3 separate regions of the Homo sapiens genome follow, and all the other regions are linked to region 1. The links come from fine-mapping of genetic effects on gene expression. A gene starts in region 1. Each other region holds a variant in brackets. All regions are shown on one strand. Distances are between the middles of the regions. Region 1 holds the start of DGUOK (deoxyguanosine kinase). Region 2 overlaps DGUOK (deoxyguanosine kinase). Region 3 holds the start of MTHFD2 (methylenetetrahydrofolate dehydrogenase (NADP+ dependent) 2, methenyltetrahydrofolate cyclohydrolase).

Evidence for each region.
Region 2: its variant is fine-mapped to the expression of DGUOK in whole blood (TOPMed, PIP above 0.99). The same link has a PIP of 0.9 or more in fibroblasts.
Region 3: its variant is fine-mapped to the expression of DGUOK in whole blood (INTERVAL, PIP above 0.99).

Annotation. Positions count from the first base shown.
Region 1 is chr2:73,923,562-73,931,295 of GRCh38, reverse strand. DGUOK (deoxyguanosine kinase) reads right to left here and starts at 4,416. Exons shown (of 7, transcript NM_080916.3): 1 at 4,244-4,416. The coding sequence starts at 4,385. RefSeq lists an enhancer at 4,115-4,384.
Region 2 is chr2:73,955,130-73,962,863 of GRCh38, reverse strand. It overlaps DGUOK (deoxyguanosine kinase), which reads right to left. Exons shown (of 7, transcript NM_080916.3): 5 at 5,624-5,739; 6 at 4,619-4,718; 7 at 3,918-4,154. The coding sequence ends at 4,128. It overlaps DGUOK-AS1 (DGUOK antisense RNA 1), which reads left to right. Exons shown (of 2, transcript NR_104030.1): 2 at 4,657-4,897. Among named protein-coding and RNA genes, the nearest start is that of DGUOK-AS1, 22 kb to the left of the region's middle. The variant T/A (reference allele first, on the strand shown) is at 4,115.
Region 3 is chr2:74,192,308-74,200,041 of GRCh38, reverse strand. MTHFD2 (methylenetetrahydrofolate dehydrogenase (NADP+ dependent) 2, methenyltetrahydrofolate cyclohydrolase) reads right to left here and starts at 1,427. Exons shown (of 8, transcript NM_006636.4): 1 at 1,300-1,427. The coding sequence starts at 1,400. RefSeq lists silencers at 669-758, 889-1,168, 1,359-1,498 and enhancers at 1,207-1,765, 6,475-7,202, 7,203-7,734. The variant G/C (reference allele first, on the strand shown) is at 4,098.

The DNA.
Region 1 (7,734 bases):
CAAAAAAACAAACAAACAAACAAAAAAACCCCCAAAAAACTGCATGTGTTTCTTCAGGCTTCACCACCTTGGCACATGTTGCTTTCTATGGCTGAAACACTTTTCCCTCTTCTTCCTCTTGGGAATTCCTACCCCAGAGATTCTGGCTTTCCATGCCCAATCACAAATCTCACCACACAGTATGAAAATTATGTCGAGTCGGCCAGGCACGGTGGCTAACGCCTATAATCCCAGCACTTTGGGAGGCCGAAGCTGGCGGATCACGAGGTCAGGAGATTGAGACCATCCTGGCTAACATGGTGAAACCCCGTCTCTACTAAAAAATACAAGAAATTAGCTGGGCATGGTGGCGGGCGCCTGTAGTCCCAGCTACTTGGGAGCCTGAGGCAGGAGAATGGCGTGAACCTGGGAGGCGGAGGCTGCAGTGAGCCAAGATCACACCACTGCACTGCAGCCTGGGTGCCAGAGCAAGACTCTGTCTCAAAAAAAAAAAAAAAAAAAGAAAAAAAAAAAGAAAATTATGTCGAATCTGTTTTCTCCTACTTAGTTGTGAGTTGTGAGCTCCTTGAAGGACAGGAGCTGTATCCCATTCACTGCTGTGCTCAGCATGAGAGTGGACTCTTAGTCCTCACTCAGTAAGCCTCTGTTGCACAAGAAAGCAAGGAAGAAGCAGAGAAATTTGACAAGGTTAAGAAGCAAAAGTCAGGAAAATAGAGGGAGTTCAAACCTTATCTGATGACCTGTCCTAAGTACTTACTTTGTGACATACCCTGTTCTCTCTCTGGGATTTGAGGACAGAGCTTCCTTTAGGGGTGTGTTTCTCAAAGTACAGTACAAAACATCATATTTAAATAATAACATCATCAGGCAAATAGCAGGACTCTCCCTTCCCATTCCTTTCAATGTTTCGGATTTGGCTGGAGAAAAACACACAGCCATGGTGACTGGTCTCACTTTAAATTCATGACCACTAACTCCAAGTGGGTCCTAAATGGTACCCAGTAATTCAACATTTCTCTTGCTTATTCACTAGAGTATTTCATGTCTTCTGTCTCTACATTCACTCTTAGCTGATGACCTTTCTTCCTACTTCACTCTGAAAACAGACACAACCAAAAGACCTTCCCAAGTTCCCACCACACCCTCTGAAGTTGGTGCTCATATATTTTGCCATCACGCCTGTTACTAGGGATGAATTGTGCTCCTAGCTAAGACTAAATTATTTCCCACTGGGCAATAGATTCCATTCTTTCTTGCTTAAAAATCACTCCAGCAATTCTATCCTCTGTCCCGATTTACCAATTTTCCTCCTTTCCACTAGACCACTTCTGTCAACTTAAAAACATGCTCTAATTCTTTTCACAAAAAGAAAATTAAAAATGTTAAACACTCACACCCTCTTCTAATTTCAGCTACCACCCCATGACTTCCCTTTCTAAAAACTTCCAGTTATCTTAACCCACTCTCCTCACCTCCCATTCTCCTTGAACCTATACCAATTAGGCTTTCACTCCTAACACTCCTAAAACTGTTCTTTTCAAGTTCACCAAAGACCTTCATTTACTTAAACAGTATAACACAGCTGATCATTCCCTCCCACTGAATACCTTCTTCACTTGGCTTCCAGGATATCATTCTCTTTTGTTTTTTTCTCCTACCTCAGTAGGCATTCCTTCTCAGTCTCTGCTTATTCCTTCCCATCTCCCCAGTTTCATAATATTTGCATGCTCAGGGCTCAGTCCTTTCCATCAACACATAGTCTCTGGCATTAAATACCACCTACATTTACAGCTCCAGTCCGGGGAGACCCTAATTCTGAACTTACATATCCAATTACCTATTCAACACCTCTACTTGGATATTAATAGGCATGTAAAAACCTAACATGCTTAAAACCAAGGCTCACTTCTGTAATCCCAGCACTTTGGGAAGCCAAGGCAGGAGGATCAATTGAGCCCAGGAGATCAAGACCAGCCTGGAAAATATAGTGAGACCCTGTCTCTACAAAAAATATACAAAATTAGCCACGCATAGTGGCAAACACCTGTGGATCCAGCTACTCAAGAGGCTAAGGTGGGAGGATGGCTTGAGCCTGGGAGGCAGGCTGCAGTGAGATGCAATTGCATCACTGTATTCTAGCCTGGCAACAGGGCAAGACCACACCAAAGGAGGGGAAGCGAGGGGAGGGGAGGAAGAAGGAGAGGAGGAAATAAAAGAAAATCAGGAGTCTATCTTTCAAGTACTCAAGTCAAAATAATTGGAGTCATCATTGGCCCCTCTCTTTACCTTACACTCTGCATTCAACCTGTCACCAAATCCAATTGGCCCTATCTTAAAATATAACTAGAACCCAATCATTTCTCACCACTTCCACTGTTAAATTTTACTTAAAATGTAACTCAATTTTTGTTAACGTATAACTAGAATCCAATCACGTCTCACCACTTTCACTTTTCACAATACTATAATTATTGCAATACCACTTAACACTCTTCACTTTCAATGTTATCAGCCACAGTGATCTTTTTATAATCTAAGTAAAACTGTCACTTGACTCCTCAAACCTTCCAATGGCTACCCATCTCGGTAAGATTAAAAACCCATGATAAGGCCTATAAAATCTGGCCACCCCTTGGGCTTTTGCCCTAATTTCCCTCCCATCCTTGCTCACTCGACTTCAGTCACAACGATTTCCCTCCTATTCCCCGAACACACTTTCCACCTCAGGGCCTTTCCAATTGCTCTTCACTCTGCCTAGAAGATTCTTCTCCCAGGTATCCACGTGATTTGCTCCCTCATCTTCAGTTTTTTGCTCAGATGTCACCTTCTCAGTGAGGCCTTGCTTATTTTATTTAAAATGACAACTTCGGCCAGGTGCAGTGGCTAACGCCTATAATCCCAGCACTTTGGGAGGCCGAGGCAGGCGGATCACCTGAGGTTAGGAGTTTGAGACCAGCCTGGCCAACATGGTGAAACCCTGTCTCTACTAACAAAACAAAAATTAACTGGGTGTGGTGGCGGGTGCCCCTAATCCCAGCTATTCGGGAGGCTGAGGCAGGAGAATCGCTTGAACCAGGGAGGCAGAGGTTGCAGTGAGTCGAGATCGTGTCATTGCACTCCAGCCTGGGTAACAAGAGCAAAACTCCATCTCAAATAAAATAAAATAAAAACTTCCCTCAATTCTTCATCCCTAATTTTTCTCCATCATACTTATTACTCTCTAACATATTGTTCACCTTGCTTAATTTATGTTGTTTATTGTCCATCTCTCCCTACTTGAGTTCCATGAGAGCAGAGATTTTTATTTGTTCTATTCACAGCTGTATTCTCCAGGCCAAGAACAGTGCTGGCATATGGAAGTGGCTCAAAAGGTGATTTGTTGAATGAATAAAAAAAGAAATTCTCAGTTTGCTGCTACGTCTTCAGTACTCAACACTTGCTAAGCCCCTTTTAGGGGCTCAGTGACTTGGTAGATAAAAGTATCAAGTCAGAATTTATTAATATTAAATCGAAATGCTTTGCCTTCATTTTGCTTTCTGACTACTTTTTATTCAAGATACTGGATCTCACTCTTTTAACAAAATAATTTTTAATTTAATACATGTTTTTAAGTTTAAAAAGTGAGGTTCTTCTAAGAAAAGCCTTAAGAAATTATTATGCAACTAGCACAGGCACAGGGCAAAAATTGTGAATGTGGTATTTGAACGACTGAAATTTAGGAACTCTCTTCGAATAGGGTTGCCAGATAAAATACAGGACACAGTTAAATTTGAACTTTCAATGAGTGATTTCGTTGTTGTTTTGCTGTAAGGATGTCCCAAATATTGCATTGGACACACACTAAAAATTATTCGTTATCTTAAATTCTATTTTAACTGGATATTATTTTTAATTTCTGCTAAATATGGCAACCCTATCTAGGAGAACAAATAAACTGCACCCGCTTGTCGCTTCAATTTCGATCTATTACAAACAGCTAATACAATTCTTGTCCTATCCACTAACTGCGTGGCTTTTATGCCCCAACAAATATGTTCCTGTGGGCGGGTACTGAGGCCCGATATCCTAAAAACAAGGAGGCAAAGATACACAGTGCACTTTGCGAGGGGAAAGGCTCTCCTCGCAGCCCAGAAAAAGAGGCCGGCCGCATCAGACGCAGGCCATTCCGGGCCCAGCTCCTTTCCCAGCCTCTGTCGCCTGCGTGGCGGAGGCCAAGGCTTGGCAGCCGCTTTCCGGCCCTTACCAATGTTGCCTTCGATGGAGAGCCTTCGGGGCCCGCGCCCCGCGTGCAGGCCTCTGGAGGAGGAAACGCCCTCGAGTGGGCTCTTGGCCATGGAACTGAAGGGTGCTCGAAGCCGACTTAGAAAGAGGCGGCCCGCGGCCATCCCACCCACGATTCACACAGCGATCACTTCCGCCGAGAGCACTTCCGCCCTAGGTATCGCTGCTCACTCGCTCCAGCGCACCGTTGACGTAAGGAGATCGTCAGACAGGAAGTGGGTGGGGTTGAACATGCGGCGGGGTGCGCCCAAGAGACCGCTCCGCTATCGCGATGTTTGTAAAGAAGCGTTGAGTGAAGGAAGTTTTGCAACGGTGCAGAATTTGATAGTAAAAGGAGTTGCGGTGCGAGTGGTTTTTGTTCATTGGACAAATAACATTTTAAAAGACGTAATTCCACAATCCAACCACTTCATTTTTGTATAACTTTAAAATAAATTTTATAACTGAAGACAAAATTAAAAATAGAAATTGTAATTTTAAGAGGGGATTTCCCCCCCCCCAGGTGCTTGTTGTCTGGTTTTTATTTTAATATCGGAAGAAAATGGAAGTTTTAAAGTAGGAAAATGACTCAATCTGATGATTTACACAAATTTAACTTTTTCCTATTCCCTGTAATTCCCCTGCACAATGCTGGCATATTATTGACTAAATTAACAAATTAGATAATCAGTTACACCCCATCTCTTAGTTTGTGTCTTGAATAAGTAAATAAATGTTCGGTCAATCGATTTGCATTATACCCAAAAATCCCTTCAGGATAAGGTGGTGGTGGCTCAGGTATGTGACTGGAAATTGTTTAAACCTGGTAGGCTGGGTTCTTGGACGTAAGCAATGGCGAGTAGAGACTTGTATAAAACCTGAGTCCTGCTGTCGGTGAAGTGTGCTCTGCAGGAGGGCAGGGACCTAAGCTGCTGCCACAGGTGAAGCCGGACTGCCACACCCCGTCGTCATAACAACCTCAGAAGTAATGATTTACAAAATGTTGTCAAATGGTGCTTCCAGTTCCAATCGCTTAAATCACCAACAGTCAAAACCAGGAGTCAACAGGCCAAACCGGCCTTCAGGCAGCGCTCTTAGGTGTGGCAGGTTTTAGAAGACAAGGATCTGATTGCAAGGGGGCTGGGGAGGGGCCGGGGGCTGGGATACCTGTCTTGAAGCTGTTCCCATAAAAAGCACGGGACCTTTTTCTTATGTTGATGTATATATAGGATGGCTGAGGTCATGTTTATATATTAAGAACTTTTTTTTTAATCGAATTTTTTAAGGATAACCAGGGTGGGGCGTTAATGGCTACTGGAGCGGCTAAAGTCCTACCCATTCCCATCTCCACTCCAGCAGCCACTTCTGTTAAAACAAAACAAAACAAAACAAAACAAAACAAAAAACAAAAAAAAAACTGCTTACATTTCTTTACCTATGTAAACTCAGACTTGGAAAATATTCATCCAAAAAAGCTTGAGAGGCTCTCTGCCTCGCCAGGATCTTGCTGCCTCAGGGGTGTTGTGAAAGTTAAATGAGGAAGTTGTCTGCAGGCAGGCATTAATCTCCTAAAAGCTACGAGGCAGGAAAATAGGGTCTGGAGACAGGGAACCTAAGGCCGATTTAGGCTGACTTCCTAGAACTAAATCAAAAGGAAAACCCCAACTTTCTAGCCCAAGTAACAAAAGGACCAGAAGCTAATCCCTCTTCTGGGTGGCAGATAAAAAATTGAAAGTACCTCTGACTGGTCCCCGCGGGCAATCAGTCAGGCTGGTGGCAGGCCAAGTCTTTAGTTGCATGGGGTATAACTTCATAACTTTACTTCAGCCTCTGATTGGTCCCCTCCTGCAACCAATCAGACTGATCGCTGGCCACTACTTCATTTACATAGGGTGTACACCAGGTAACCAATGGGAAACCTCTAGAAGGTATTTAAACCCCAGAAAATTCTGTAATTGCTGCTTGCTTGGGCCCTTCCTACCGCAAGGAGTGTTCTTTGATGTACAATAAATCTGTGCTTTTGTTGCTTCATTGTTTCCTTGCTTTGTACGTTTTGTCCAATTCTTTGTTCAAAATGTCAAGAACCTGGGCACCCTCCACCAGTAACAGAGCTCCTAAAAATTATTTTTAAAAATTTTATGGTGAAGTGGCCTGGCGCGGTGGCTCACGCCTGTAATCCCAGCACTTTGGGAGGCTGACGAGGGCGGATCACGAGGTCAGGAGATCAAGACCATCCTGGCTAACATGGTGAAACCCTGTCTCTACTAAAGAGAGAGAAAAAAAAAAAAGCGGAGTGTGGTGGTGGGCTCCTGTAGTCCCAGCTACTCAGGAGGCTGAGGCAGGAGAATGGCCTGAACCGGGGAGGCGGAGCTTGCAGTGAGCCGAGATCGCGCCACTGTGCTCCAGCCTGGGCGACAGAGCGAGACTCCGTCTCAAAAAAAAAAAAAAAAAAAAATTATGGTAAAGCATAGTATGTAGTGAGGAAAAGAGGATGTGTTGTGCAGTGAGGAAAAGAGGATGTGTTGTAAGTGTACAGTTCAATGAAGTTTTCACAAATGGAATGACTGTTACCTGGATTCAGATCAAGAAACAGCATTATCCGCATCTCCAGAATCCCCCATATTCGTTGCCAGTTACTATCCCTCAAAGATAACCATTAGCCTGACTTCAACAGTAGAGATTAGTTTTGCGTTTTCTTTATATAAATGGAATTATATAGTAAATACTTCTTTTATTTAACATATCTGTGAGATTCATCCAGGTTGAATGTATTAGTTGTAGTTCACTCATTCTCATTGCTGTATAGTATTCCACAATGTCACTATACCACAATGTACTCGGAAGTTTCTAGATTTGAGCCATAATGAATAGTGTTGCGGTAAATATTCTTGTACATGTCTTTTGGTAAAAAGAAGTATGCATTTCTCTTGGGTGTATAAGTAAGACTGGAACTGCTGTGTAATAAGTTACATATATATGCTCAGCTTTGATAGATATTCCCAAATAGTAGATAGTTCCACAGTGTTTGTTCTAGTTGACATTGCCATCATCAGTGAGAGAGAGTTCTGGTTTTCCCACATTCTTACCAACAGTTGATATTGTCAGCTTTTTAAATTTTATCCATTTTGCTGTGTGTAATTATAACTTATTGTGGTTTTAATTTGCATTTTCCTGCTGATTAATGAAGTCAAACATCTTTTTGTATGTTTATTGGTCATTTCAGTATCCTCTGTTGAAGTCTTATGTCCATTTTTCTATTGGTTGTCTTTTGCTTGTCTTATTCTTCAAATATTCTGGATGAGTCCTTTGTGAATATTTTATCTCTGTGGTTTGCTTCTTTTCTTTTCTTTTCTTTTCTTTTCTTTTCTTTTCTTTTCTTTTCTTTTCTTTTCTTGTGTTGAGACAGAGTCTCTTGCCCAGGCTGGAGTGCAGTGGGGCAATCTTGGCTCACTGCAACCTCCATCTCCTAGATTC
Region 2 (7,734 bases), 32 kb before region 1:
ATTTGATAATGGCAGTGATAGAAAACAAATCCAAGATCACGCAGAGGGAGTGGACGAAGACAGAAATGAGCCAAGGGTACCTTGGGGACACCAACACTTTCGAGGAAAAGAGAAAAAGATGGCAGCCCAGGAAGCAGAAGGGGAGGCATCAAATGTAGGGGAGCCAGGAGAGACCCATGAAGGAGAAAGTGGTTCAGAAAATGTAAACTGCTATTTAAGTGAGGGCTGAAGAAGGTTAAATAGTATTAAAATTTTAAAGTGCATGTTATTTCGTTGCATCACTTCCTCTGTGATTCTGGTATTTGCATATAACAAACAATCTCTTTTACTTGAAATTATCACCTTCTGAGAGTTTGAGAACTTTCACAACCTTGATCCTTGTTATAAACCCATCAAGGTAATATTCAGGTTCCAGAACAGCAGGTTTTACCACATCGTAAGCCAGAAAGAAATGCAGCTATTTCTTATGTGTTAATCCAAATTTTTTGACGCTGGGAGTTGGCCTAAACCAAGAATAACAGCCATCCAGACTGGCCTGAGTGTAGAGTAGGGACCGTTTTAGTGTGACCTCCACTCTCTAGCGTCCACTTTAAAAACCCACGGTGCCCAAGGTTTCAGCCTGCCTTCCTGTGGTCCTAATCTGCACACTTACAGGCTCCACCCAGACCTACTTGTCCCTCCCCCACAATTTAAGATTCAAAATTACTGCTGCTCATTAATATGTTTACTCTCTACAGATGATCTCGGCTACAAATTTGGAAAATGACAAATATCACCTAGGTTACACTGTTGATGGCCCGCACTATCCTAGAGGATATTTACTTTTTTTTTTTTTGAGACAGAATCTCGCTCTGTCACCCAGGCTAGGGGGCAGTGGTGCAATCTCGGCTCACTGCAGCCTCTGCCTCCCAGTTCAAGCAATTCTTCTGCCTCAGCCTCCCGAGTAGCTGGGACTATAGGCCTGCACTACCATGCTCAGCTAATTTCTGATTTTTAGTAGAGATGGGGTTTCACCTTGTTGGCCAGGCTGGTCTCGAACTCCTGACTTCAAGTTATCCGCCCGCCTCGGCCTCCCTAGGTGCTGGGATTACAGGCTTGAGCCACAGTGCCCAGCCAACGTTTACTTTCTAAAAGGCAATATTTACCAATAGAGATGCTGAATTTGTAGACTTTCAGGCTTTAAAACTAGGTGAAGAGTGTAGTGGCTTACATCTGTAATCCTAGCACTTTGGAAGGCTGAGGCAGGAGAATCACTTGACACCAGAAGTTGGAGACCAGCCTGGGCAACATAGTGAGACAGTCTCTACTAAAAATAAAATAATTAGTGGGCGCGGTGGTGTGCACCTATAGTCTCAACTACTCAGGAGGCTGAAGTAGGAGGATGGCTTGAGCCCAGGAGTTCAAGGCCGCAGTGAGCTGTGACTGCACCACTGCACTCCAGCCTGGGCAACACAGTGAGACTGTTGTGGGGGAAGAAAGGAACGAAGTACTGATACATGTTACCACTTGGATGAACTTTGAAAACATTATGCTCAGTTAAAAAAAAAAGTTACAGGAGACAACATAGTATGATTCTATTCATATGAAATTGCAGGAATAGGCAAATCTACAGAGACAAAAGTAGACTGGTTGTTGCCTAGGGCTGGGAGTTGGCAGCAGGGAAACTTGGGGGAGATGGGGTATGGGCTTTCTTTTTGGGGTGATGAAAATGTTCTGGAATTGTGGTATTGGTTATACAGCCCCATGACTACTATACTACAAACTATTGAATTGTATACTTTATTTTTTGTTTTTATTTATTTATTTATTGAGATGGAGTTTTGCTCTTGTTGCCCAGGCTGGAGTGCAGTGGTGCGATCTTGGCTCACTGCAACCTCTGCCTCCTGGGTTCAAGCGATCCTCCTGCTCTGCCTCCTGAGTAGCTAGGATTACAGGCACACACCACCACACCCGGCTAATTTTTTGTATTTTTATTGGAGACGGGGTTTCACCATGTTGGCCAGGCTGGTCTCAAACTCCTGACCTCAGTTGATCCACCTGCCTCAGCCTCCCAAAATGCTGGGATTACAGGCGTGAGCCACCACGCCTGGCCTGTACACTTTATTTTTAAGAGATAGAGTCTCGCTCTGTCACCTACAAGTGCAGTGGCAGGATCATAGCTCACTGCAGCCTCCTGGGTTCAAGCGATCCTCCCACCTCAGCCTCCCAAGTAGCTAGGACTACAGGCTCACTCCACCACACCTGGCTTATTTTTTTAATTTTTACTTTTTTGGAGAGCTGGCCTCTCGTTATGTTACCTAGGCTGGTCTCAAACTCCTGGCCTCAAGCAATTCTCTTACTTTGGCCTCTCAAATCTCTGGGATTACAGGTGTGAGCCACTGTGTGTGGCCTGAATCGTACAGTTTAGATGAGTGAATTGTATAATATGTGAATTATGTATCAATAAAGCTATTAAAATGTTTTAAATAAGTAGGATAAGGAAATTGCCATACTTTTATATTAAAACATTACTTTTTTTTTTTTTTTTTGAGACAGAGTTTCGTTCTTGTCGCCCAGGCTAGAGTGCAGTGGTGTGATCTCAGCTCACTGCAACCTCCGCCTCCTGGGTTCAAGCGATTTTCCTGCCTCAGCCTCTCAAGTAGCTGGGATTACAGGCATACACCACCACGCCCGGATAAATTTTGTATTTTTGGTAGAGATGGGGTTTTGCCATGTTGCCCAGACTGGTCTTGAACTGCTGACCTCAGGTGATCCACCTGCCTTGGTCTCCCAAAGTGCTGGCATTACAGGTGTAAGCCACCTTGCCTGGCCTATGTATTTGTTAGAAACCAATCTCACATTCATTTCCCCAAAGCATAAAGGACAGAAACACAGATTTCTGTCTTCTGGGGCACTCTTACGTCCCCAGATCATTCATCTTCCTGTGTACCTGCAGAACCGTCAAGGGTTCAGTGCAGATCTGCTCCTGTGAATCATGGACCTGCAGGCTTCTGGCAATGGAGCACTTCAATCCTATAGAGCCATGTATTTTTCTTCCCTTAACAATAAATTCTATTTGAAGGGTAAAGAGCACAACAAAAAATTTTTTTTTTTTTTTTCCTGCACAGAGAGATCCACTCCATTAACGTTATCTGGAAGTCATTGGGTAAGGTATTTAGACAAAGATAGAGTGCCGGGCGGGCCAATCTTAAATGTCAGATGCTTAACTTTTGGGTTCTTGCTGTTTTCTACCTTTTTCTTTTGGCCAGGTTCTTTAGCTCTAGGACAAGGGTTTAAGTTCCCCACACCTGTCCCCTATGTCAAGAGTGGCAGATGGGAAGAGATAAAGAAGCTTCCTGGAGTTCATGCTCCATTTCCTGCTCTGGGGGGCTCACATTTAAGATCCCACCCACTCTTGAGCCACTTTATTTCCCTTCTTCATGCATGGCAGGTAGGGCTTGGGTTAGAGTTCTGGGAGCAATTTGAAAATTGCTAGTTGATATGGTTAGGCTTTGTGTCCCCAGCCAAATCTCATCTTGAATTGTAATCCCCAGGTGTCAAGGGAGAGACTTGGTGGGAGGCGACTGTATCACCGGGACAGGTCCCCCATGCTGTTCTCATGGCAGTGAGCTCTCAAAAGATCTAATGGTTTTATAAGGCAGGTTTCCCTGCTCTTTCTTGCACTCGCTCATTCACCTGCCACCATGTGAGATGTGCCTGTTTCCCCTCTGCCATGATTGTAAGTTTCCTGAGGCCTCCCCCACCATGCGAAACTGTGAATCGATTAAACCTCTTTCCTTTAGAAATTACCCAGCCTCAGGTAGTATCTTTATAGCAGTGTGAAAACGGACTAATACACTAGTCTAGAGGTGAATTTAGAGCAAGCACCAAGAGATACATGCTGAAATAAATGAGCAACTGAATTAGAAAAACAAGCATAACTTAAGTAAACTTTATTTTCAAAATGCTTCAGGTACAAAAGAAAACAATGGCAAAGTCTAACAATAATTAACAAACCAGCTCTTGAGCGGCAGAGTGCTCCAGGGATGAGAGGGGCTGGGGATGGAAAGGTGGTTGGGAGACACAACATTTTTCTAGCTTCAGAAAGTCAGGGAGCCCAGATCACAGCCTGAAC[T/A]TCATGGTATTGGTTACAGATTCTTTACAAAGGTGTTTACCTGTGGGAAGGAGAAAATCAGAAGTTTAATTTCACATTTTTAACAGAATTTTCAATGGTCCACCCCCAATGCATATGCAGCCAAGCCCATGAGGTTTTTGTGAGGAAAGGAAAATAATAGGCATGGAGAAGAAATGTGGGCAGCCCAGGGTCATATAGCATCAAGTGGCAGAGCTGGGAATAGAATCCAGTAGTCTCATTTCCCTAGTTTTAGGATGCCTTAGAGAAGAAAGTCAGCTGGCAAGCACATGTTACAAGTCAATTATTTAACAATTATTAGTCCAGCATACTTTAGAGAATAGGGATATTTGTAATCTGCACAAGATTCCATAGGCCTTGGAGTGTGAAATGCAATGTGAGATGCAAAGCACAAGACCCATGATATTGAACTTTGAAGCAAAGGCCAGAAAGATAAAAGTACAACAAAGGAAACCACCAGAAAACAGGAGTTAAAGTCCTTCCCACCTCTCTCATGAGGTCTTCTTGTTTGGTTACTTCCTCAGAAAAATCATCATTGACATCCAACACCAGCACTGGAATGTTCATCAGAGCCTCAAAGTGGAGCCTATAAGAAGCGTGAACGTTTGGGGGACAGAAAAAAAGAAATGTAACTTGAGTCAAGTTTCACATACTCGCCAAGTCTTACTCAGAGAACAGATCTAAATTCAACATGACTTTTCAAAGAAACTGCATGTAAACTGCATTTAAAAAAACAAATTCAATAAAGTTGGCCGGAAACAGAAAGGTTGAGGTTTCTCTTCATTCTTGAGAGTGATACTAACAAACAGTCAGAGCACCAAACATTTTAAGTGGACAACAAACCAAGCCTAAAGGGAGGACAGGCAGAAACCAGGAATGCCAACTTAGTAATACTGACAATTTCTCTAACATTTTCAGCCCTTCATGCTGAGCCAACTATCACCATCAATCACAATGTTCAGTCTAGGGAAATGTTAAGAAACAAAGAAAAAGCTGGAGAAATACAATCTAATAAAAAGGCCCTTGGAATGTAAAGATTATATTCAATATTAAACTTCTTCTGGGCATCTCACTCTGTCGCCCAGGCTGGAGTACAGTGGTGCGATCTCGGCTCACCGCAATCTTTGCCTCCCAGGTTCAAGCGATTCTCCTGCCTCAGCCTCCCGAGTAGCTGGTATTACAGGCGCCTGACACCACACCTGGCTAATTTTTCTATTTTTAGTAGAGACAGGGTTTCACCATGTTGGCCAGGCTGGTCTTGAATCCTGACCTCAGGTGACTGCCTCAGCCTCCCAAAGTGCTGGGATTACAGGCGTGAGCCACGGTGTCCAGCAATATTAAACTTCTGAGTTGGAAAATGCTTGACATTTCCAACCATTTCCAGTATATTCTGAACCTTCCTACAGGGGGCTGCATGCTGAACTTGTTTTTAACAACTGGCTGTTGGGAGCCAGGTCTCTGTCTCTGATACATTCTTTTCTCCCCACTTACTTCGTTGTCTTGTGAATAAGCCAGGCTTCGTGTTGGCCATGCAGCTGCTCTAGATAGGCCAGCTCAATTCCTTTCTCCTCCTCCCTGGCCCTCTGGTACAGTCTCTTCAAACAAACCTAAAAGACAGTCCCCAAGCCCTGATGAGCTCTTTGCTGTTTTGGCTGCTACAATGCAGTCTTCGGGGGCTCTGAGGCCCACCCATAATGTCTATCTTGGGCATTACAAGCCATGCCTTTGCTTCTGCTGTCTTGTTTTCTTATGCAATCAGAGGATCTACACCATTCTTTTCCCATCTCCACCTTAAACCTGCTCTTCCTCTGAAGTATCCTAAGTCGGTTAATGATGAACATCATCCATCCAGTCATCCAAGCCACGGACCTGGAATTTTCCTTGTTTTTCCTTCTCCCTACTATATCTGGGAAGTCACTCAATTCTCTTTCATCTCTCTAGAATGTTCTCTCCTTGCCTCTCCTCTCACCTCTGCCCTGGTCGGGTCCTCTTTACTTCTTACCTGGATTATGGCAAGAGCCTTCTGGTTCTGCCTCCTGGAGGCAGGGAAGCATATGGACAGAGTACAGGCCTTAAGGTCAGAAAGTCCAGGAGTAAATTCCTGCCTTCATAAGGTACTAGCAGTGCAGTCCTTGTGGGCTTCTATTTCCTCATTGTCTACCCATCCACAGGTCACTGAGGTAAGTTGTATTGAGCTCCTGGCAAAAGCTGTTCCCTCCTTCCAGTTTTTCCCCTTCACTCCACCCGTCTGTAGTACGGCAATATAATGACATGACTTTCCTTGCTGAAAATACTTCACAGGCTCTTTACCGCCTACAGCCATAGCCCCAGGGTTCAAAGCAGTATGTATGAATAGCATTGCATTTATAAAATGTTAGGTAATTTGAAATATCTCTTTCATGTCATACCAAACATTCACTCAGGAATAGAATGTAAAATTTGCACAGGTCAAAGATAAAACAAAGAAGTGGAAAAACAAGTGAGGCTTGAGACTAACTCTCCTCCCCCGCTGCTTTGCAGAGTGTACATAATTCTATTCTGCATTCATCTGGTAGTGAAGTTTGATGCACACTGGCTCAGAAAATGACATCTTCTTTACCTGTCACACAAAGCTACCCCTCCTACTTCTCAACTGCCTTAGCTCTTCCCCTGGACTCACTGCTTTAGCCAGATTTGACCTCTTTCCTGGGGAACAGGCCAGGCTCTTTCACACCTCAAAATTTTTGCTCCAAATGTTTGTTTTGACTGAATTATCCTCAGTCCTCTCTCTGCTTGACAAACATTTCATTATTCAATATCATCTGTCCTGGAAGAACAGATGGATTAACCCACTGATTTAGGACTTCACTCTTTTTTTTTGAGACAGAGTCTTGCTCTGTTGCCAGGCTGGAGTGCAGTGGCGCGATCTCAGCTCACTGCAACCTCTGCCTCCCAGGTTCAAGTGATTCTCTTGCCTCAGCCTCTCAAGTAGCTGGGACTACAGGCGGGAGCCACCACGCCCAACTAATTTTTTGTATTTTTAGTAGAGATGGGGTTTCACCATGTCGGCCAGGATGGTCTCGATCTCTTGGCATCGTGATCTGCCCGCTTCGGCTTCTCAAAATGCTGGGATTACAGGCGTGAGCCACCGTGCCCGGCCAGGACTTCCCTCTTTCAATAACTTACTTAAGAAATGAAAACTTAATTTCCAAATGTAGTACACAATAATCCCAAAGACTTGGGAGTCTTTGCTGTTTCCCTCTTATCTTACCTTTTCTCTAAGGAAATGAAATTATAGAAACAAATTTTATTAATGATCAAAAGGTATATGCACTTGCAATTATATACTGCCAGACTGCCTCCTTAGAGGTTAACCAATTTATATTCCCACCAGAAAGGTAGCTTTAGGATTTCTAAGCATAGCAAAGCTATCATCTCATTTTCCTTTCTGAGAAAAAAAATGTTGTCTGTTTCGTGAAAATAAATTTTTTTAAAATGTGACTTTATGTTTCCAAGTACACACACAAAGGCAGAACAATTCTTTTTAGGAAAGCTATTTATAATTATTCATTCACTGCTTGCAGACAAACCTTGACACTAACATTGATCTATTAAAATAAGCT
Region 3 (7,734 bases), 270 kb before region 1:
AAATTACACGCGTGTTCTGCCCCTTGTCAGGAACATGAGCTCCATTAAGAACAGTTTTTCTCATCTTTGAATTCGCACAGCTTGGCATAGTGTCTGGTACACAGTGAACGTTAGATGAAAAAAAGAAGGGGCTGATGTTGTAAGGTGCAGGGCTCTAACAATGCCAACAATGCCAGCGCTCTAATGACCGACCAAATCACCTTCCCAAGGAAACCCAAAAATGCAAACAGAGCTTTTCCTTTCCTCCTCCCCTGTATATTTTTCCCAATTTTGTTATTGTGGTAAAATTCACATAACATAAACCTTATCAACTTTTTTTTTTTTTTTTTTTTTTGAGACAGGGTCTCGCTCTGTCGCCCAGACTGGAGGGCAGTGGTGCAATCACGGCTCACTGCAGCCTCGAACTCCTGGGCTCAAGCGATTCTCGTGCCTCAGCCTCGGCGCGTGTCACCACGCCCGGCCCATCTTAACCATTTTTAAGTGCAGTTCAGTGGTATTAAATACGTTCATATGTTGTGCAACCATCACCACCATCCATCTTCAGAACTCTTCATCTTGTAAAACTGAAATTCTGCAAGTACCGCTGAAATATGGGTACTTGTCACTCTCCATTCCCCCTTTCCCTAAGGCCCTGGGAGCCTCCCGGATGTTTGCCACCTCTATGTACGCAGCCCGGCACTGACAGGCTCTGGTGGGCTGCAGCCAAAGCTAGGGTGCCCAGAGTCCGTTCATGTTCCTGGCAGAGCGGAGGCAGCGCGGGCCACTCCCACCGGCGGAGGGAGGAGGGCGGCGCGGGGACCCCGAGCAAGTCGGCTCCGCGATTTCATCAGCTGCAGCAGCGCCCTCCGCCGCTAGGGTCCCCGCAAGGACAACTCGCCGAGGGCTGCTCTTTTGGAACCCTCGCCTGTTCTCCCCCAGACGACTCTCAGCATCCCAGCCAGAGGCGGCCGGCGCTGTCGGAAGGCTCCGCGTAAACTGATGCCTTCGCGTTCCGCACGCCACCCCCGTCCCGCCCGCCGACTGGCCACGGGCCCCGGCGACGCCCCGAGTCGCAGGAGAGCGGCTCCCTCCGAAAGGCGGGCTTCGGGTACCAGCCCTCCGCGCCGAGGAAGCGCCCCAGTCGAGAGCTGCGGCGGCGCTCGGTGCCACGTCGCCCCGCCACACCCCTCAGCGGCCACCACCGCCGGGGCGGAGATGTTCGGGAAGGACTTCCCTCGGTGTCCCTCGGGGGCCCGGCGTGCCCCTCGCCCTCCGTTCCCCTCAGCTTTCCGCGCTGACCGAGCTCTGTGACCCTCTTACCGAACTGCCGCGAGGTGGAAAGGGCGAAGGCGAAGGGAGCAGCTGTGCGCGGGCTGCAGCAGCCGGGCAGCCAAAGCAGACATTAGAGAAGTCGCAGCCATAGACCGCGCCGGTGACTGCGCCGGGAGGGAAGCGCGCGCGCGGGCCACGCGGTTATACTGCGGCCTCGTGGCAGGCCCCGCCTCCCTCCGCCACCCATTGGTCCCTGCCGCATGCCACTGGCTGTCTGTTGAGCCAGGTGGAGCCGAAGGGGCCAACCGGTTTTCTTTATTAAACGTAAGCGAAGTCCGAAAGAGCCCTGCTTTTGATTGGAGCCAGAAGAGCCTGGAGCGAGGTCCTGTAAGGCGCTGAAGCCTCGGCAACGTGCCATGATAGGCTGAGGAAGTCAAACTCCTGCCTGACGCCGCTAGTGTCACCGAAGGCCGGACAACACAAGAGAAAAGTTCATTCATTCATTCGTTGAACAATTATATGAGCGCCTACTGTGTGCCAAGCACTGTAAAGGGTGGATGAAAAGACAAGCTGATAGAATGCCAACGAACAGAAGTAAAAGGAATGATGGAGTTAGAAAATCACCATTTTCCAAAATCAGTACATGGTGGCGCGTGACTACAGTACCAGCTACTGGGGAGGCTGAGGTGGAAGGATCACCTGAGTTCAGGAGGTTGAGGCTGCAGTGAGCTGAAGGCGCGCCACTGCACTCCAGCCTGGGCGACGAGAGTGAGACCATATCTCAAAACAACAACAAAAAAAGTAAAATCATAAAAGATATTCAGAGACAGACGTCAGGGTTGCATGTGCAACCCTGATTCAGAAGCAGCAATAGATGTCAAAACAACTGGGTGAAAGTTGGATGAGGAGCAAGATATTTACATATAGGGTTGCCAGATCTAGCAAATAAAAACACAAGATGCCCAATCAAATCAGAATTTTAGATAAACACTTTGGGAGGTCATATTTATACTTTATTTATGGCTTATCTGGAATTCAGATTCAACTGGGCTTCCTGTATTTTTTCCCGCAAACTTTTTGCATAGTCTCAAAGTATCTCTCCCGCAAGGAAACTTAAGGAGGGCAGGGCGCGGTGGCTCACTTCTGTAATCCCCAGCTCTTTGGGAGGCCAAGGCGGACGGATCACCTGAGGCCAGGAGTTCGAGACCAGCCTGGCCAATGTGTTGAAACCCCCGTCTCTACTAAAAACACAAAAAATTATCTGAGCATCGTGGCGGACGCTGTAATCCCAGCTACTGGGGAGACTGAGGCATGAGAATCGCTTGAATCTGGGAGGCAGAGGTTGCAGGGAGCCGAGACTGTGCCACTGCACTTCAGCCTGGGCAACAAAAAGACTCTGTCTCAAAAAACAAAACAAACAAACAAAGAACAGGGGAAACCAATCCTGTCAACACCTTGACCTTTACTTCTAGCCTCCAGGAAGGAAAGGAAAATGGTAAATTTACAGTGAAGAAACATGACAGTTACTGCTTCAACCACGTGATCAAAGTTAGCACCACCCAGTAAGGGAACACACATATATGCCTTCTGATAGGATCCATTGAGGAGACACATCACTTCGTAGCTCTTAACAAGTCTGTAAATTTAATAAGGTGATTTTCCTAAACCAATGAGTCTCCTAAAAACGGTTACAGATTCCTCATTTCACATTGAGAAGAAAGATCACAGACCTAGAATGTTAAAACTGTCCAGGAAAAAAAACAGTTGTAAAGCTTTGGAACACACTAGTAGATCTTAATCTATTCACAAGGAAATATCAGACAAGCCCAAAGTGAGAGATATTCTACAAGATAAATTGCTTGTACTCTTGACAGCTCCAAGGCCATGAAAGACAAAGAATGAGAAACTGTTCTCCATTAAAGGAGCCTAGGCATGACAGCTAAATGCTGTTTGATTCTGGATTGGATTCTGGACCCAAAACTTTTTGTCTTTCTTTTTTTCTCTTTCTTGCTTCTTTTTTTCTCTCTTTTGCTATAGATGACATTATAGGACAATTGGCAAAATATGAATAAAGTCTGCAACTAGCTAATAGCATTTTATCAGTGTTAGCTAATCGCATGCAGTAATGTAAGAGAATATATTGCACTTGCTTCTAGTACTAAAGGACCATGTCTGTAACTTACTTTTGAATAGTTCAGAAAAAAATAATGCTTTGTATGTATAAGTTGGCTAGGGCTGCCATAACAAAATAACACAGACTGAGTCATTTAAACAACAGAAATGGGCTGAGTGCAGTGGCTCACGCCTGTAATCCCAGCACTTTGGGAGGCTGAGGCAGGCGGATCACCTCAGATCAGGATTTTGAGACCACCCTGGCCAACATGGTGAAACCCTGTCTCTACTAAAAATATAAAAATTAGCCAGGCATGGTTTCACATGCCTGTAATCCCAGCTACTTGAGAGACTGAGGCAGGAGAATTGCTAGAATCCAGGAGGCCGACGTTGCAGTGAGCCGAGATCGCACCACTGCACTTTAGCCTGGGCAACAGTGAGACTCGATCTAAAAAAAAAAAAAAAAGAAAGAAATGTATTTTCTAACAGTTCTGGGGGCTAGAAGCGAAGGTCAAGGTGTTGGCAGGATTGGTTTCTCCTGAGGCTTGCAGTCCTTGGCTTACAGAGGGCTGCATGCCTGCTGTGTTATGGCCTTTTCTGTGTGTGCACATGCAACCCTGACGTCTCTCTCTGAATATCTTTTATTATTTTACTTTTTTTGTTGTTGTTTTGAGACATGGTCTCACTCTCGTCGCCCAGGCTGGAGTGCAATGGTGCGCCTTCAGCTCACTACA[G/C]CCTCAACCTCCTGGATTCAGGTGATCCTTCCACCTCAGCCTCCCCAGCAGCTGGTACTGTAGTCATGCGCCACCACATCAGCCTAATTTTTTGTATTTTTAGTACAGACCGGGCTTCGCCATGTTGCCCAAGTAAGCCTTGAACTCTTGGGCTCAAGGAATTCACCTGTCTTGGCCTCCCAAAGTGCTGGGATTATAAGCATGAGCCACCATGCCCGGCCTCTCCGAATGTCTTAATCTCCTCTTATAAAGAAACCAATCAGATTAATTTAGAGCCTACCCTAACAGCCCCATTTTAACCATTTTAATCATTGTTTTAAAGGCCTTATTTCCAAATAGAGTCACATTCCAAGGTCAGAGTGTCAACACTGAATTTTGGAGAGGATACAATTCAGTCCATAACAATGTATATACATAAAAAAAAAACCCATAAAACAAGTGGCAAATGTAAAATATTAACAAGTGGGGAAGAGTATACAAGTATTCTTTGAACTTTTCCTGTAACCTTTCTGTATGTCTGAAATAATGTCAAAAATTTTTTAAAAGACCAGTAATTTTTTTTTCTCTTCTTTTCTTTTTCTTTTTTTTTTTTTTTTTGAGATAGAGTCTCACTGTGTCACCCAGGCTGGAATGCAATGGCATGATCTTGGCTCACTGCAACCTCCGCATCCTGGGTTCAAGTGATTCTCGTGCCTCAGCCTACCAAGTAGCTGGGATTACAGGCATGTGCCACTATGCCTGGCTAATTTTTGTATTTTTAGTAAAGATGGGGTTTCCCCATGTTGGCCAGGCTAAAAAGATCAGTAATATTTATGCCCTTATGGGGCATGGAGTGAGGCAGGCATACAATGAATAAGAGACTAAGAAAAAGAATGTGATGCTGAGAGCCCACAAAACAATGGATATGGAAGGTTTAGAGGTCAGAGAATGGCCTACAGGTTATATAACTGGTGATAAGACTGGGTGTGATAATTTGCAGATCCTGTCCCCAGTACGCTGTGGGGAGGAGGCACCTTAGAGTTACTTGAACCTAGCAACAGTGATTGAAGAGGGAAAGGAAATACACATTTCCCATCTTTTAAGGAAACTAACCCTCCATCCCTCTGCAAAATTTGGGAAATTTTCTTTTCCCAAAATGTGAACTTTCAGGAATGAATTGAAACCGCCTTTGCAAACATTGTTAACAGCGATCTAACATTTAGTTAGACCACTTTCATTAATGATCTGATCTAACCAACTTCATCTTGCCTTTAACTTCCAAACTTCCCTTGGTCATTCCTGGGCATGGACAAAACTATCCTTGAAACACCCAAACTTTCTGGGAGGCTGATTTGAGTAATAATAAAACTCTGGCCTGGCGCGGTGGCTCATGCCTGTAATCCCAGCACTTTGGGAGGCCGAGGTGGGTGGATCACAAGGTCAGGAGTTTGATACCAGCCCGGCCAACATGGTGAAACCCCGTCTCTACTAAAAATACAAAAAAAAAAAAAAAAAAAAAAAAATTAGCCAGGCATGGTGGCATGCACCTGTAATCCCAACTACTCAGGAGGCTGAGACAGGAGAATTGCTTGAACCCGGGAGGCGGGAGGTCACAGTGAGCCACTGCGCTTCAGCCTGGGTGACAGAGCAAGACTCTGTCTCAAAAAAAAAAAAAAAAATTCCAGTCTTCGGTTTAGCCAGCTCTCTGTGTATTAAACGCTCTCTGTATTATAATTCCTGTGTCTTGATAAATGGGCTGTATCTAGGCAGCAGGCAAGATGAGCCCACTGGGGAGTTACGAAACCCATGTGTGAACATTATTATATATTTTTAATATGCTTCACAAAAGGACCTGCTTCTACGCTCCCACTCTCTTAAAATATCATTTATTTAGACTAGGCTAAATAGTCTAACAGGCTAAATAGTCTAACAGGGTGGCTCATGCCTGTAATCCCAGTGCTTTGAGAGGCTGAGGTGGGAGAATTGCTTGAGCCCAGGAGTTCAAGACCAGCCTGGGCAACATCGTGAGACCCCATCTCTACAAAAAAATAAAAAACTTAGCCAGGCGTTGTGGTGCACACCTGTGGTCCCAGCTATTCGGGAGGCTGAGATGGAAGGATCACTTGACCCCGGAGGTTGAGGCAGCAGTGAGCTATGATTGGATTACTGCACTCCAGTGTGGGTGACAGAGATTCTGTCTCGGCCGGGCACAGGGGCTCACGCCTGTAATCCCAGCACTTTAGGAGGCAGAGGCGGGCGGATCATGAGGTCAAGAGATCGAGACAATCCTGGCCAACATGGTGAAACCCTATGTCTACTAAAAATACAAAAATTATCTGGGCATGGTGGCACATGCCTGTAGTCCCAGCTACTCAGGAGGCTGAGGCAGAAGAATCGCTTAAACCCAGGAGGCAGAGGCTGTAGTGAGCCGAGATCATGCCACTGCACTCCAGTCTGACAACAGAACGAGATTCTGTCCCAAAAATAAAAATAAATAAAATAATAATAATAATAATAATAATAATAATAATGAAATGGGCTGGGCATGGTGGCTCACACCTGTAATCCCAGCACTTCGGGAGGCCAAGGTGGGAGGATCACTTCAGCCCAGGAGTTTGAGACCAGCCTGGGCAACATAGTGACACCCTGTGAAAGGAAAATTAATTTCAGACTCTAAAATCACTAAACTGAGGGGAAAGTCAAGCTGGGAACTATGTCAGGCAAACCTGCCTTCCAATTTATTCCCCAATAAGATAGCTACAAAGATTAAAAAAAAAAAAAAAAAAGAAAGCTGCATATCTTCCTCACAATTTGCCCACAAGGAAATTCCTTGTGGGTCTCAAGATCTTTACCTGAAAACAGTTCTGTTGAATTTCATCCTGGCAATGTAAATTGATAGATGATCTTCACAGATGCAGGACAGAAAGTCATCCCTCTGCTTACCTGAGACAAATGCATATCTGATTGCTTCCTCTGCCCTATTGTTTTGTTTTGTTTTGTTTGTTTTTGTTTTTTTTTGAGAGAGAGTTTCGCTCTTGTTGCCCAGACTGGAGTGCAATGGCGTGATCTCAGCTCACTGCAACCTCCGCCCCCTGGGTTCAAGTGATTCTCCTGCCTCAGCCTCCCGAGTAGCTGGGATTACAGGTGCCCGCCACTATGCCCAGCTGATTTTTATATTTTACTAGAGATGGGGTATCATCCTGTTGGCCAGGCTGGTCTCGAACTCCTGACCTCAGGAGATCTGCTCGCCTTGGCCTCCAAAGTGCTGGGATTTCAGGCGTGAGCCACTGTGTCCGGCCTCCCCTATTGTTTATGTAAAAATGCAGATTCACTGAGCCAGACTAAATTGTGTATTCAGTGAAACGCTGATCAAGGACTCAAAAGAATGCAGCCTTTTGTATCTTATCTACCTATGACGTAAAAGCCTCCCCACACCACTCCCCACTTTGAATTGTCCCATCTTTTGGGACCGAATTAATGTACATATTACACATATTGATTGATGTCTCATGTCTCCCTCAAATGAATAAAAGTAAGCTGTACCCTGACCACCTTGGGCACATGTAATCAGGACCTTCTGATGTGGCTGTATCATGGGTGCATGCTTAAGCTTGGCAAACTAAACTTTCTAAATAGATTGAGACCTATCTCAAATATT